Linked DNA regions of Homo sapiens: region 2 is linked to region 1. The links come from fine-mapping of genetic effects on gene expression. Tissue or cell type: whole blood. Region 1 holds a variant in brackets; the other region holds the start of a gene. All regions are shown on one strand. Distances are between the middles of the regions.

Evidence for each region. PIP is the estimated chance that this variant, and not a neighbour inherited with it, causes the effect.
Region 2: CYB5R4 starts here. The variant in region 1 is fine-mapped to the expression of CYB5R4 in whole blood (INTERVAL, PIP above 0.99).

Annotation. Positions count from the first base shown.
Region 1 is chr6:84,221,928-84,230,034 of GRCh38, forward strand. CEP162 (centrosomal protein 162) reads right to left here and starts at 5,716. Exons shown (of 27, transcript NM_014895.4): 1 at 5,653-5,716; 2 at 4,410-4,525. The coding sequence starts at 4,466. RefSeq lists enhancers at 5,129-5,629, 5,630-6,130, 6,032-6,191. The variant T/G (reference allele first, on the strand shown) is at 4,122.
Region 2 is chr6:83,856,516-83,864,614 of GRCh38, forward strand. CYB5R4 (cytochrome b5 reductase 4) reads left to right here and starts at 3,174. Exons shown (of 16, transcript NM_016230.4): 1 at 3,174-3,342; 2 at 7,660-7,813. The coding sequence starts at 3,268. It overlaps RIPPLY2 (ripply transcriptional repressor 2), which reads left to right. Exons shown (of 4, transcript NM_001009994.3): 4 at 727-1,000. The coding sequence ends at 874. It overlaps RIPPLY2-CYB5R4 (RIPPLY2-CYB5R4 readthrough), which reads left to right. Exons shown (of 18, transcript NR_174604.1): 4 at 7,660-7,813. RefSeq lists a silencer at 3,245-3,294.

The sequences.
Region 1 (8,107 bases):
TCCCTTCTCTCTCTACTCCCCGCCCTTCCCTCTGATTATACACCTGCTCAGCACTGCATCTCCAGTGCCTAGCATAGTACCAGGCACAATTGCGGAATGAAAAAATGAGCATTCTACTCAACTTTGAAAAAAAAAAAGTAGAACAAAACAAAAAAATTCCTTATCCCTACGTCCCTTTTACTCTATCACATTTCCTTGATATACCAACTCCTTGAGTTCACTTAACCCCTTATAATCTGGTTCCCAACCAAAACAGCTCTCCTCCAGGCACCAAAGGCCTCCGAAATGCCACAAATAAAGTACCACTGTCAGTTATCCTCCCTGATCACATCATGGAATTTGCTACTGGTGATCAACTCTTAAACTCTTACTTCTTGAAACTCTCTACCTTGACTTTAGTAGCATCACTTCCTCCGGGTTATTCTTCAGATCTGTGGCTACTCCCCTCCATCTATTTTAATAGCTTTGGCTTTTTGCCCATTTATTTAACAGACTTTTCCAGGACTCTGCTCTTGATCCTTTTTCAATCTCATTCTACATTACTTTTTCTGGAAAAGAAACCAACATTTACTACATGCCTGCTCTATGTCAGGATCTACACTCAGGTTAACTCACTTAATCTTTAAACTACCCTGCAGAAATTTACTCATGGTGAAACTGAAGCTCTAAGAGGCTAAGCAACTTGCTTAAGTTGCTACTGTTAGTAAGTGTTACAAAGTCACATTTAAACCCATGTCTGACTAACTCCTGTCCACTTTCCACTATACTATGTAGTTCCCCAACTAGAATATTGTTATCTGAGTGACCTTTTAAACTTCTAAAATGACAGGGCGCACACGCGCGTGCACACACACACACACACACAATCTTCCACTTGCCAAACAAAAAACTCTACCTCAGTGACTTGAAGAATGTCAATTTAAAAATGTTCAAGAAGAACTTAACTGTCTTCACTAACAAACAGGTAGGAAGACAGGAGGAGGGAAGAAAAAATATTCCTTAAACCATCTGAATTTCTGAAATTAGTTAGCTGCATCACTTTTTACTTACTCTCTAAACTTCAGTATCACCTTGAGGTGTTCCATTTCTCTTTCCTCCCATTTTTTCAATTTATCTGTAACATAGGCATGGTACTACTGACCTTGTAGGGCCATGACAAAGAAGAAAAAAAGAAATGAAGACTTCTAATACATGATAAGTGTTCTTACTTTAAACAACCTTCCACAGTGCTTCCCAGCACTTTCATTAATTATTTTTAATGAATATGATTCATTAAAAATAAAACAAAACAGGCCGGGCGTGGTGGCTCACACCTGTAATCCCAGCACTTTGGGAAGCCGAGGTGGGCGGATCACGAGGTCAGGAGTTTGAGACCAGCCTGACCAACATGGTGAAACCATGTCTCTACTAAAAATACAAAAATTAGCTGGGCGTGGTGGCGCATGCCTGTAATCCCAGCTACTCAGGAGGCTGACGCAGGAGAATCACTTGAACCCGGGAGGCAGAGGTTGCAGTGAGCCAAGATTGCGTCACTGCACTCCAGCCTGGGTGACAGAGCAAGGCTCTATCTCAAAAATAAATAAATAAATAAATAAATAAATAAAAATAAAAATAAAATAAATAGAAATAAAACAACAAAAAGGCTGATTCTCAGATACAACAGTTGTTGGCAAGGATATGGAGAAACTGGAACTCTAGGCTGGGTGTGGTGGCTCACACCTGTAATCCCAGCACTTTGAGAGGCCGAGGCAGGCGGATCACTTGAGGTCAGGTGTTTCGGACCAGACTGGCCAACATGGTGAAACCCCATTTCTACTAAAAGCATAAAAATTAGCTGGGCGTGGTGGCAGGCGCCTGTAATCTCAGCAATTTAGGAGGCTGAGGCATAGGAATTGCTTAAGCCCAGAAGGCAGAGTTGCAGTCAGCCAAGATTGCACCACAGCACTCCAGCCTGGGCAACAGAGCAAGACTCAGTCTCAAGAAAAAAAAAAAAGAAATTGGAACTCTGATAAACTAATACACTACTAGTGGAAATGTAAAATAACACAGTCATTTTAGAAAATAGGCAAACACACAGCTACCATATGATACAGCAATTTCACTCTTTGGCATATACACAAGAGGAACAAAAACACATCCACACAAAAACTTGTACATGATTGTTCATGGCAGCATTGTTTGTAACTGCCAAAAAGTGGAAAGAACCCAGATGTCCGTCAACTGACAGGTGGAAAAACAAAATGTGGTACATCTACACAATGAAATATTACTTATCCATAAAAAGAAATGAAGTGTTAATACATACTACGACATGGATGAACCTTGAAAACATCATGCTAAGTACAAGAAACCAGACCCAAAGGGCCCCATAATATATAATACAATTTCTATGAAATGTCTGTAACAGGCAAACATTTAGAGACAGAAGTCAGCTTAGTAGTTGCCTAAGGCTAGGGAAGGGGGAACAAGGAGATGGAGTAACTGCTAACAGATATGGGATTTCTTTCTGGGGTGATAAAAATTCCTATAATTGATTGTGGTGATGGTTACATAACTCTGAAACCACAGAACTGCACATTTAAAATGGGTGAATTAAATGGTATGTGAATTATGTCTCAATAAAGCTATTTTTAAAAAGCTGGTTACCACTACTGTCCTAAAAAATAAAGATATATAAACTATGTCTTTGAATAAATTGTTTGAACAATAATTTATCAAAGTGAGAAAAGTTAGCATGACTCTAAAATCATGACTTTCACAGTAAAAAAAAAATGACACATTGCAACTGAGGATGGATATAAGAGGAAGAGAGACACAGACAGAAGGGTGGGGGAAGGAGAGTGTTGGAGAATGTGTGTGCTGGAAGGGTGGTAAATGAGGGAAGAATAAAAACATCTTCTAAAAGGCCTGTTCTGCTATCTTTTACAATAAAAATCATTCCTATAAATTTAATTTTCAAAATGTGTCTGTATTTGAAATTTTAAAAAATCAACTTTTCAAATGGTAAATGAAACTTATTCCAAGTGCCTATTACATCTTGACAATTGGTAGATGCTTTTTTAAATCCTTAAAACAATTCTACAAAGAAGGCATTATTTTTCCATGAGACGGATAATGAAGTTTTTTTGTACTACATTAAACTCCCTTTTTTAACAAGAATGTATAACGTATAATAGCTTAAAATGTGACTCTCTTGAATGCTCTACAAGGCCCCTCCATTTATATAAATAGAGTTTTATGCATCGCTTAATTATGGGGATATGTTCTGAGAAATGGGATTTCATCATAGGAGCATCATAGAGTATATTTACACAAACCTAGATGGCTCCATGGTATAGCCTACTCCACACCTAGGCTATATGGTATAGCTTATTGCTCCTAGGTTACAAAGCTGTTCAGCATGTACTGTACTGAATCCTGCAGGCAACTGTAACACAATGGCAAGCATTTCTGTATCTAAACATAGAAAAGTAAACATATGGTACAAAAGATTAAAAAGATACACCTTTATAGGGCAGCCCCATTATAATCTTACGGAACCATTGTTGTATATGTGGTCTGTTGCTGACCAAACCATCTTTATGAGGTGCATGACTGTACACAGAACGTGGTATAACCATTTAATATACTCATTCAAATATTTATTAAGTATTTATTAGGTACTGTAGACATAGTAGTGAACATGTTGATATATAATAGCAATGAACGTAGAGTCATCACATTACAGACCATACATTCTTATAATGGGAAGCAGAAAACAGACCCATACAAGAAAAATAATTAATGTGCTAAGTGCTATAAAAAGAATTAAATACATACCAGATTAAGAAGTGACTTTGTGTTTACCTTTTACTGGATAAACAGAAGAAGCCTCTCTGAAGTGGTGATATTTAAGTTAAGATTTTCACCAGCCAGGTAAAGAGTAAGGGAGGAGCATTATTGGCAGAGGGAACAGTGAGTGCAAAGCTCCTAAGGTGAAATGAGCTTGCAATGTCTGGGAAAGAAAAAAGGCCACTGTGGAATAAATAAAGTGGGTGAAAGAGGGATATGAAGGCAGTGAGATATGTAAGAGTGAAATCATGAAAGGCTTTAAAACCATGGTAAGGAGGAGTTGTTTGTTT[T/G]TTTTTTTCTACATGTGATGGGAGACCAATAGAGTCTTTTACTGGGGAGGAACAGAGTCTGACTGCAGTGTGGTGAAAGGAATGCTGGACCATGAGTTGAGAACTGCTGCCATAGCCCAGTTGAGATGATGGCACTGAACTAGCAGTGGCAGAAAAGGGACAGGGCTAGAGGGATGATGGGAATTCAGAGTTTGGTGATGGACTAACTGTATCTTCGAGATGACAGAATTGAAGGATGAGTCTTTTGAGACAAATTTGACAATATAGCTTTTAAAAATATAAACTTACCTCTTTCATAAACTGTTCAAACTCTTCATCTAGCTCTTCTTGGGAACAGTTAGCCATAGTCAACAATTTTGACCTCCCAAAGTAAACATTCTAAAGTACCTCAAACATTGGAAACACTAAATGACAAGAGACATAAACATCTTTTGAGGAAATCCATCAGATCATGAACACGACCAGACTTAAACTTCGGACATTTGTTATGATTCAGTATATATGCACAATTTTTTTTAACCAGTAAGAGCTGGTCAAGAGATTCCTAATTCATTAAGCAAACTGATTTGGAAAAGCAGCTTTGACAGGATGTCTTGTACTCAACGTTCAGAATTATGTTTTCATCTGTTAACATCCAATTGTTAAAGAGTGGTCTCTACAATATTTCCCAAACCTATGTTTGTGTGCATGTGTTAATTAGTACCTCTCAAACACAAACCAGGTCCTCACAGGGAATCTTAAAAACTGTAAGTTAGCAAATCCAAAGGACTGTTTCTTTCTTGCAAAGCACACGACAGTTTGTGCTGCCTTATCACTCGGCTCGTTATTTTACCAATCCATAGTAATAGTTTCGTAAAGCAGACTGCATAGTTTCGTAAAGCAGACTGTATCCAGATACGGGGATGTTTCAAAATATACACAAATAGAATTTAGTAAGAATTAGTAATTTAGTCAAAATACTTAAAGAATACTTAAAGTTAATGGAGTACACAAATCAGTACTATGTTTCTTTTGAAGCGAGGGAAGACCGACAAAAATTATGTGCTGAACACAAGCAGAATCCAGTGATTTGCAACGGAAAGCGTTCCCCTAGACACCTAATGAACCCAACCTTGGGTCGACCCCCAGCTCCTGAACTCCCTAGAGCAGCTCAAATCCCAGCTTTCTTCTGTAGAGATGGGGGAGGGGAAGAGGGCTTGCAGACCCGGACAATACCCTCCCCATCGTGCAGAGTAACACCTCTTCCCCTCATTTGCACTTTCGATCAGTTCAGGGTAAGTGCGGTTAAGGTCTTGGCCTGAATAGCTTGGTCAGGGGTGAGCTCCACTAAAAGCTTCTCAAGCCTGGCTGCGACCCCGTCCCCAGAAGCGCGGGTTCGGGAATTGGAGGGAAGACAAAGACGCATTTGCCGTGGGCTCCGGGCGGAGAAGGGGAATGACCTGGAAAATTAAAGCCCTTCGCTCGAGTATGAAGCACGGCCTCGACCAGGGCGATTTGGGTGGGAAACCAGCGTTCACACCTTACCACCTACCTCTGCCTCTGAATTCCGCGCTTTCCCGGAAGGTCTGTGCGGGTCCACCAGTTGTCAGGGTAACAGACTTCAGCTGCCGGGTTCTGGAGTCACATGACCCGGGCTGGTCACGTGGGCCGTGGGTTTCCCAATGCCTTTACAAGCGAAGGTCGGAATAACCACGGCTGAGAAAGACACTCTAGTGGCTAAACCTTCGCTGCTGCAGTAAAATGCCTTTCCTTCCCTGGCTTTCTCTACGTTCCTTAGAAAAGGGGACAGCGGCAAACCGGTTACTGGAGAAGCGAGACGGAGGCTTCCAGCAGGCTTGGAGGGCGCGGTGGTTGTAGGCCAGCCCGTGGCTTTCTGGGAAATGTAGTTTAGCTCCCCTGGTCCTTGTGTTTCCGCACTCCGCATCGTCGCCTCCCGCCTTCCCCACACTTGTCATTCGAGCGCTCTGTTTTTCCAAGGGGCAATTTTGAAGAGATTGAATTTCTTGGATTTCTTTGGCCTGCAAAGACCTGTGTAGGCATTGTGAGAGAAACACAAACCTGTGAGGAAAAAAACTGTCGTTTAGATGGGGACTCTGTTCCACCACCTAGTGGGCAAGAAATCGAAAATACGCAAACAGCAAGATTCTTATTAAGTTATTGCTCCTCCCGCTACCCCTACTTTTCAAAACTGCATTCTTTACTGGCATTTCACAATTACTGACTTGGATTTTGTTTTCTATTTCTTTTCTTTTTTTCAAAGCATGCAACATTAGCTGGAGTTTCAGAGGACAACATTTAGCATAGTGTAAGTAAAATCTACAACAGCTGCAGGTTTTGCTGATGGTAGACTTAGTTCAGGACCTCATCTTTAGCTAGAACTGTTTATTCATCAAGTCTTTCTTGCAATACAAATATGTACAAACCAGGAGCTGTGGACTATGATGCAAATATGAATAATAAAAGAAATATCTTAAGCTACCATTTATTGAGAAGTTGACTTCCTGCCACCTTCTATCAAAGACTTACCTTCCCACATATGATCTAGAGCCTTTACCCATTCTTCTTCTCACTGATCTTGTTCCACTGGTCATTTCCCTTAATCCTGTATCTTCGACTTCTGGCTGGCTGTGGGATTTTTCCTAACAGCATTTGAACATGCCTTGAGATCCCCACCTAAAACATCACTTCTGACACATTCTCTTCATGCTATTATTTCCCAGTGGTTGAAATGATCTGTCTCCTCACCTTACTTGCCAATCTTTTCTGAGGAATTATTTCCACTTTACCTCCCTTTTGTCAGACCTTTTAATCCTGTCTCTGTGTGTGTAAGTGTACATATATGACAGCGCTTTATTTGATCTCCCAATACTATTTGATACACTTGTCTCCTCTCTTTCTTGGTTTTTCTTTCACATTTATAGCCTCCCCTCAAGGGTTTTCACTGTCTCTGTCTATCCTAGCTGACCTCTAAATGTTAGAATTTCTTTTCTTTTCTTCTTTTTCTTTTTTTCTTTTCTTTCTTTCTTTTTTTTTAATTTCTATTTTTTTGAGACGGAGTCTTGCTCTGTCACCCAGGCTGGAGTACAATAGTGCGATCTCGGCTCACTGCAACCTCCACCTCCTGGGTTCAACTGATTCTCCTGCCTCAGCCTCCCGAGTAACTGGGATTACAGGTGCCCACCACCACACCTGGCTAATTTTGTGTTTTTAGTAGAGACAGAGTTTCACCATGTTAGTCAGGCTAGTCTTGAACTCCTGATCTGCCCACCTTGGCCTCCCAAAGTGTTGGGATTACAGGTGTGAGCCACCGCGCCTGGCCAATGTTAGAATTTCTTAGGGCTTATTTCTGGACTCTTATTCTGTCACACTTCATGGTACTTCCATACACCTACTCATTCAAGACAGAAATCTGGGAGTTCCCTCTCTCCCATATTTTATTCGTCAAGACTTGTTGGTGCTACCTCCAAAATGTGTCTCTATTCTGTTCATTTTACATCTTAATTACTAATGATAGAGGCATCTTTTCCTCTTGTCTGAGCTGCTTCATTAGCCTTCTAACAAGTTTCTCTATTTCTACTCCTATCCTCGTCTAACCCATTGTCTACACAATAGAAAATGTGATAATTTGAAAATGTAAATCAGGTTACTCCATTGCTGAAAATCCTACAATGATTTCTCTCTGTATTTGTACTAAAATCCAAATATCTACAAGGACTTGCATGGTATGGTCGGCACTATTCTCTTCTACAGCCTCCTCTCACCCCCACTCACCAAGGCATGCAGAATTATTTGCAGCTCTGGTACAGAGTTCAGTCCTATTGAGGTTAGAATTGGAGCTTTGGTATAAGGAGTGGAAGATGAATGTTACTGTGTCTAAAGAGTGAATAATCATTTTGTCTCTATGCGTAAACCTACAAAACTTATGCTTATAGGATCCAAGAGTTTGTTATGCTGAATTGTGGAAGGGATGTCACTAAATTTTTGGT
Region 2 (8,099 bases), 370 kb before region 1:
TGAAATTCTGAGGTAATAATACTTACATGCCAGTTATTTGTATAAAACATATATAATTTCTCAACATTTCATATGATATTCACAAATTTAGTTGAATGGGGAGAAGACAGGCACATAGAATCAAAGTTGAGGTCAGAAGTAGTCTTTCTATGCCTCAAGTTGTGAGTGCATAGACAAAAATTTTAAAATACTGGTTTTTATACATTTTTAAACTTACGTTGTCTACTTCTATAAGAGTTAAATCTGTGAGTTTTAAATAAGATAATAGGTTATTTCCACCTTTTTGTAAGGTGCATAATATTTTGTCATCTTTATAAAGCTGGCTATCATTAAAGTTTTTAATGTAGTGGTAGAACTCAATTCATTTTTTCCAAAGGAATTTAGAAACTGGAAGACAAATCTTCTATATATTATAAGAATAAATATATCCATAATGTACAAAGTAAGGTAAACATTGATCTTATGCATATCCAGGGTTTAGTGTAAATTTGTTTGATCCAATTTACAGCTTGAATAAAGATTTACAATAATCAAACAATTATTGATACTTGGGCAGGTAGATTCCATGAAGGCTGTGATAGTAGCATATTTTAACTCTGTATCTTAAGGCTATATCCAAATGTATAAGTCAATTGTTAAATATATGGAGCTCTTGAAATTTGACCATTTCATGAGTTTAAAGATCCTGAATGTGAAAAAATAAAACATGTTGTCTGCTTCTTTCAGACTATTTTGGCCAAAATCAAAATGTTATGATTACTTATATCAAGAAGCAGAAGCTCTTCTGAAAAATTTTCCAATTCAAGCCACAATTTCATTTTATGAAGATTCTGATAGCGAAGATGAAATTGAGGATCTGACCTGTGAAAATTAATCTGATTAGCTACTTTTGATTATATCCAAAGCTTGTGGGGTTTAAATTTAGTGTACAAATGTATCATAATTATTTTAAACTAATTTATTTGTATATAAATTATTAATAAAATGAAATATTTTGTAATTATTCTGGTATTTGGCCTTTTCTTTATCCCTACACTAGAATTGAATGTTGGAATCTAAAACAGGTGCCATCTACAAATGTCTTGATTGTATTATAAATATTTGGGGCTTACAAAGAATACATTTTTCTTTTCGTTAAATTGCACATTTATATTTAGTTATAATTTTGCAAAGAATGACAGTATTTAATTCTCAAGACTGAATCTTTTAACATCTGCTATTTCCTACTGATGCCAGTTGGATGTTGTAGTTACATATCAATGTTATCTTATTAGATAATGAAGAAAATAGACTTATGTTAGAAATCACTCATTTATTAGTAAAGATTTCTTAGCAGATGGAGAAAAACACATTAAATCATTACCTGTAATTGAAAAAGGGAATCAATCTTAGGGCTTTTAAATTATAGATATTTTAAATAAATGATGAGCAAAGTAACTCATATTTTAATACTCCTCTTCAGTCCTTAAATCCAGTAGTAAAATAGTATGGATGTTTAATACTTAATGTACTACATTGAGGGATCCCTAGAATTAAAACAAAACGTTTAAATTTGAGTGATTGATATGGAGTCTAAAAAAGTGGAGTCTAAAGGCCAGAAGTTGATAGCATCTTCCATTTCTGTACAAAGGGGAGCTAAGAAATTTGGAAAGCATGGAACATTCTTCAACAATATTAACTTTTCCTTGCTCTGGTTCTCTGCTTTTGATATTCTTATGTAAAAGTTTTCTCACGAGAAGTGAAATAAATCTCAGTGATTAGTTTTTCTTGTGTAGACTCTAGAAGAATATGTCATCATTTAATGAGAGAGAACACAGAAGCAATTTGCAAAGTCAAAGTAATACAGTTAATTATAGTCATGAGGTTCTTTTAGCTCAAATTCAGTCTTCTCATAATAAGCATTTCAATTGCAAATAAAAATGGATAGAGGTGAATGTCATAGGTGGCTACCTTATTTGAATGCTTGTATTTGAATGGCCACATATAGTCACACACTTTTTCTTCTGATTCTGCAAACATAACCTTGATTTTTTAGGCACTTTAAGAACTAAGTAGTTAAACAGAGAAAGTTTAAAGCATGACAATATGTTCAGAGTTAGGAAAAATTAGTAATTAAAGGAGGATGGGGAGGATTATTTAGAACTATGTTTCTTCTCCTGAAAACTTTCTCCCTTATTGGATTCTACTCTCAAGATCTATGTGTTCCCCAAGGGACACACAAAACAATCAATCAAACAAACAAAAACCATCAGATTTTGAGCATTAGAGCCTGGTGTTTACCTGCACAGTGTTGGTCCTTTTCCCATTAATATGTTGGAATAGCACAAACAGCCACTGCCACTTATTCAGTACCTAATATTAATCAGGCACTGCAGTATGTAGTTTACACATGATCCTTTAATCTTTAATAAACCCATTATGCAGATGGGGAAAATGAGACTTTGAGATACTAAAGTAACTTGCATAAGACAGCTCAGTCATTAAGTGCAGGGATGGCATGCAAACCAAATCTGACTTTTAAACGTTACTTCATCACCACAGCTGGAGGTGAGCTGCATCAGTACACAATTCCCAGTGAAGACAGGAAGTTACATAAGGAGGGAGAATTTGTGAGTGGGTGAATAGAGCAGAAGGTGACTTTACTAACGTCTTTCGCGCATTCATTAGCCCTCAGCATGCTTAAAGGTGAAGTTTAAGGATGATTAAAGGTGAGGTTTTCTTCTTACCCCACAGTAGTGGCTGTTGACATTTGATATTTTTGCTCTTAAAGGTGTGAGATGCTCTTTGCATTACAGCCTAGTGCCTTACAGGAAAGAATTTCAGAGAAACTAAAATTCGTTTTAGTCCATATTTCAAGTAGTGTGTTTTAGTCCATATTTCAAGTAGTGTGATGGTACTGCTTAACAATGAACAGACATTGCTGTTCCGGGTTAACAGGACTAAGAATTTGTTCCCACATTCGGTCAGCACCAAGGCTAAGGAACAGCTTCACTCTCTAATCTTTCCACGAAATAGCTGTCACCTTGCTCCGGTGCTGAAGTTCGGGATGCGGAACTAGCTGAGCATGCGTACTTCCTCCCTGCCGGCCCTCCCTCCGTCCCGTTGGCTCCGCCCTCCGCGGACGTGCTGCGTCAGAATGCGCCTCACCCCTGGCGACCCCGGAAGTGGGTCGGGGGCTTGGCCTCTGCCCGGCCACAGAGCCGGAGCTGGAGGTGCTGTCCCGTCTGGCGGCGATCCCCGGGCAGGGCCCGGGGCCGGGGTTTGAAGATGCTGAACGTCCCTTCCCAGTCTTTCCCGGCCCCCAGGTCGCAGCAGCGTGTCGCCTCCGGGGGGCGTAGCAAGGTAAGCGGGTGGCTCCGTGAGTCTCTCCCCTCGCTGCGTTTCGAGCTCTGGCAGTGTGTTCTCTTCTTCCGCCCCAACTCCCAGCTCCTGCACCCCTCTCTAAGCTGTCGTTCCCTGCTGTCCTTGCCTGCAACCTCTTTCTGATCCCACTTTGTCTACAGTCCCTAAACTCTCCTTACCTCCTCCCTTTCCCCTAGCAGTCCCTCTTCTTTCTGGTCCTTTATCCCGCTCTATCCGTTCCCTTCCTCCAAGTCCTTTCCCGCGATTTAAATTTATATGACAGAGCCAGGCACTGTGTTTGCGGTATTATAGGCTCTCGGTATTAGCCGCCTTCCCTCAACCTCATCTTCTCCCTGGTCTTTTGTTCTTCACTGCCTGAAGGAGTTGTACCACATCACTCGATGTGGGTTCCCTCGCAGGAGGGAAAGGCTTGGCAGTGGCGACAGTGACCGTCCGTGCAAGGATGGGGACTTCTGGAGTTGGGGAGCTAGGTCAGGTTTACAGACACTATCCAAGACATACTGCCTTTCTTTCTTCCTCTGGTACCTGATTGTTTTGTCATTGCCTTTTCTACTAGTATCACTTGCTAACTTCGAAGCAAATATAATAATACTCTTGAGTTCTTGTTGAGCACAGTTGCTGTTAGCAACAGGTGGAATACTGTACAGATATATTTTATATTTGCAGAATTCAATAAAAATTGTGTTCTTTGTTCTTTTGCGAATGTTGTTTGTTCCTATTTGTTAGTTCCTCATTCTGTAACCATATCTTTATCTTTCGTTTGTGACACTTCCACTTAACTTGGGCCACTCGGTTAACTCTTGAGTCTTAGCATCGTTTGGAACCCTTATCGATTTTCTTATTTTTCTCCACTTAGACCTGGCGTTCTGATTCTAGTTCAGAATGAATATAGGTTCAGGGATCTGTGGTTTTCATTAGCTTTCCAGAGATTTCTTAAGTACTTACGGGTGGCCGTGTATATTCTCAGTGCTTTGCATGTATTAACTTTAATTTTCACAATTATCCTTTGAAGTGAAAGCTTTTATTGTCTCTATTTCGCAGAAAAGGAAACTGGCTAAGAAATATTGCCCTAAATTGCGTAGGCTTGTGTTGTGGTTCTGCTGTGAAATTTCATTTACTGATTCATATATCAATCATCTAGCCATCCAATCATGTATATTTTTCTCATTGGTTTTTGACCTATTTCTTGAAGCTAAATACTTGACTGAATAACAGTCTTTCCAGAAAGAATCTCTGAATTAGAATATGAGTTACTGCCCTTCTTCGTTAAAAATACCAACTGTGTTCTTAGCATCCATTTAAAGGAGAAAACTTAGAAGCAAAGACAAAAAGTCACACAGGGGGCGATGGCAAAGGTGAGTTTTTGGTCCAAAAAGAGAACAAAATAAGATTATTGTGCAATTCTAAGGAAAAGTCAGACTCCAGTCTTCTTCCTCTTTTCTTTGTGAAACAAGATGATGCTGAGAATGTAAAAACTGAGTCAGGTTTGGATGAAATGGGTAGAGGTTGAGAAAATAGAACCAAGTTGGGAAGGTCGTGTATTATACAAAAGGTTCTCAAATAGTGTTGTTTCATTCAACAGCATTTAGTTATAATATTGATGAGAAAAAAAATTCGTTTTGGCCAGGGCCACTGTCTTTGGAGTTTGCATGCTCTGTGTCTGCGTGGGTTTTCTCTGGGTACTCTGGTTTCCTGCTACAGCCCAAAGATATGCAAGTTAGGTTAATTGGTGTGTCTAAATGGTCCCAGTCTGTGTGAATATTGGGTGTGTATGAGTGTGCCTTGCCATAGGATGGCATCCTGTCCAAGGTCGGTTCCTGCCTTGTGCCCTGAGCTACTGGGATAGGCTCTGACTACCTGTGACATTGAACTGGAATAGTTGGGTAAATAATTATCTTACTTGTTTTTTAATTAATCTTTCTTAAATGTATATATAGCTAACATTTCTTTCAGTGTTTAATATTAGAAGTATTTTGGTCTTTATTTAGAAGTCTGGTGATGTTTTTGTGACCAGAAATATGCTGCAGGAAATTTTGTTTGTCAATTAACCCACGGTAAAATTAGTTTCGTTGTACATAGTTTAGTTTCCAAGCACCTAGTGACTAGCTTAAGTGAAGGCTTATTGTAATTTTTTAAAGGCACAGATTTTGAAGTGAGAAAGACCTAGATTCTTTCACCATATCTGCCAGTTAATCTCTTTGAGTCTGTTTCCTCAGATGTAAATGAGAATAACAGTACCCATTTTATAGGATTGTTCATAGGATTCAATGAGATAATGTTTCTCTTAGCACAGCCTTGGTAAGCACCCAGTAAATGCTACTTGTCCTGAGGCTTTTATTCAGATCTCACAGACTTGAGTGTGACACAGAATATGCACTCAACATATGATAGTTATTATTTCTATTAATACTGGTAAACAAATACTTATTGAGAACCTACCATATGCTGGAGTTTTTGGTCTCTGATTTCAAGGTGTTTAGTCTCATAGGTTGCATGAAATAGTGAACATTCAGTTATAAAGTCATAAGTACTACAACAGGGTGGTATGACCACTAAGGAGTTGAGGATCAGAGAAGCCTTCCAGAGGAATTAATGGGAGTTGGAGTGAGGTTGATCCATGCAGGGAAAGCAACACTACTATAAGCAAGTACTTGACAGCAATAAAGGAATCAAATAATCAGTTCCCATTTGGCTAAAGTATATAATGGAAAGGAGCAAAAGTTAGAACATGGAGCTAGTACAGTCAACTGTGACCAGATTGTGAAGACCTGGTAAATCCCTAGGGAATTTAGAGACGTTGTTGTAAGGTGACCTGAGGAGCCACTGAAGGAGGGAGAGCCTGTGATTAGATTTGCATTTCTGAAAGATTGCTTTAACTATCCTGTGGATTATGGAATGGAGAGAGGTGAGTGATTTTAGTTTGGGATGGGAAAGGTCATTTTCTCACACTTCATTTATTGGGATCAAGAGACCTAGAGTTTCAGTGATAGCCAGAATGGAATGATGTAGATTGATAGGATAGAATGTGAAAGGCACCACAGACCTATTAACTTGGTTACTTTGGGAGTAAATGGATGTCTAAAATAGATATGATTCAGGAAAGTGAGATATGTAAACATCCTTGAATGTGTCTGCTTTTACATTAAACATTCTTCTGTTACTACGTTACAAATTAGTCAGACAAGCTTAGTTCCATAGAGATATCTTGAAAATGTTCTGGTCAAAGTACTAATAATACTTCTCGTCTGAAAACTTTGAAAATGTGTTTTATAAAACAAAACAAAATAAAAACCCAAACCATCCTGTTACTAAGTTCCCTAGGCAAGGGTTGGCAGTTTTTTTTCTGCAAAGGGCCAGGTGGTGTTTTCGGCTTTGAGAGCCTCATAAGGTTTCAGGCTCTTTACCACCACATGTGAAGACGATTCTTTGCTCAAGGGCTGTATAGAAACAGGTACAGGCCATAGTTTGCCACCCCTTCCCTACAGTGTTACAAGTTTTATTTTCCATTATTTGATAAACTTTGTTACTCAATGGATTCTTAGATAAGATTGCTATCTAATGATTTCTAATAGTCTGTTTATCTTGACAGTCCAGAAAATCAACTATAGTTAATTGTCTCTTTACCTTTTCTTCTGTCAAATCTCTTTGATTTTTAAGGTGAAGAAATTTTGGTCCAAACTGGTTAACTGTAACATATTAATGTCAGAGCCAGGACCAGAACCTCTTTTCTAGTTTCTGGTTCAATACCATTCCTGTTATATGGTCAGCCCTGTGTAGCCCTGGGTTCCGCGTCCAAGGATTCAACCAACTTTAGATCAAAAATATTTGGGGAAAAAAATTAAAAATAACAATACAACAATAAAAAAATAAGAATTATAAAACAATGCAATACAACAACCATTTACATAGCATTTACATTGCTTTAGGTATTATTAGTAATCTAGAGATTATTTAAAGTATATGTGAGAATGTTCATAGGTTATATGTCAGTACTTTGCCATTTTATATGAGACACTTGAGCATCCTGGATTTTGGTATAGGGTAGGGGGAAGTCCTAGGACCAGTCCCCCAGGAATACTGATAGACTACTGTACTGTGACATCAATATGGTGAAAATTTGTGTGGTAGAATTTCTAAGCCCTACCTTTTATAATTCAAATACAGCATAAACAATGTTGACAGCCTCTTAAAACTGTAAAAGGATTTATAGAAGTGTTAGATTTGAGTTTTATTATCTTTTAAAATGGAATTAAAAGTAATGAAGCTAGATTTAATTCTTCCTTTTTCCATTTTTAGGTACCTTTAAAACAGGGCAGAAGCCTTATGGATTGGATTCGACTGACCAAAAGTGGAAAGGATCTAACGGGATTAAAAGGCAGGTTAATTGAAGTAACTGAAGAAGAACTTAAGAAACACAACAAAAAAGATGATTGTTGGATATGCATAAGAGGTAGGTGGTATTTATTAAGTCCTTCAAAAAATGTTGCCTGAACTTTCCAATTATGATGTTACATAACCTCACAGTCATGTTATTTTAAACAATTGACAATTTAACAAAAATATGCCTTGTGCTTGACAATAACTTATATAATTCTGACTTTGGATAGTATTTCTTCCTTAGGTAACCATTATATTCTGATGCAGAAAACAGTGAACTTCTGATACGAAAAAGTTTTTCTTGCTTCCTTGTACTGCATTTCCTTTGAAAGGAAACAAGCATTTGCCAGGCAATATAG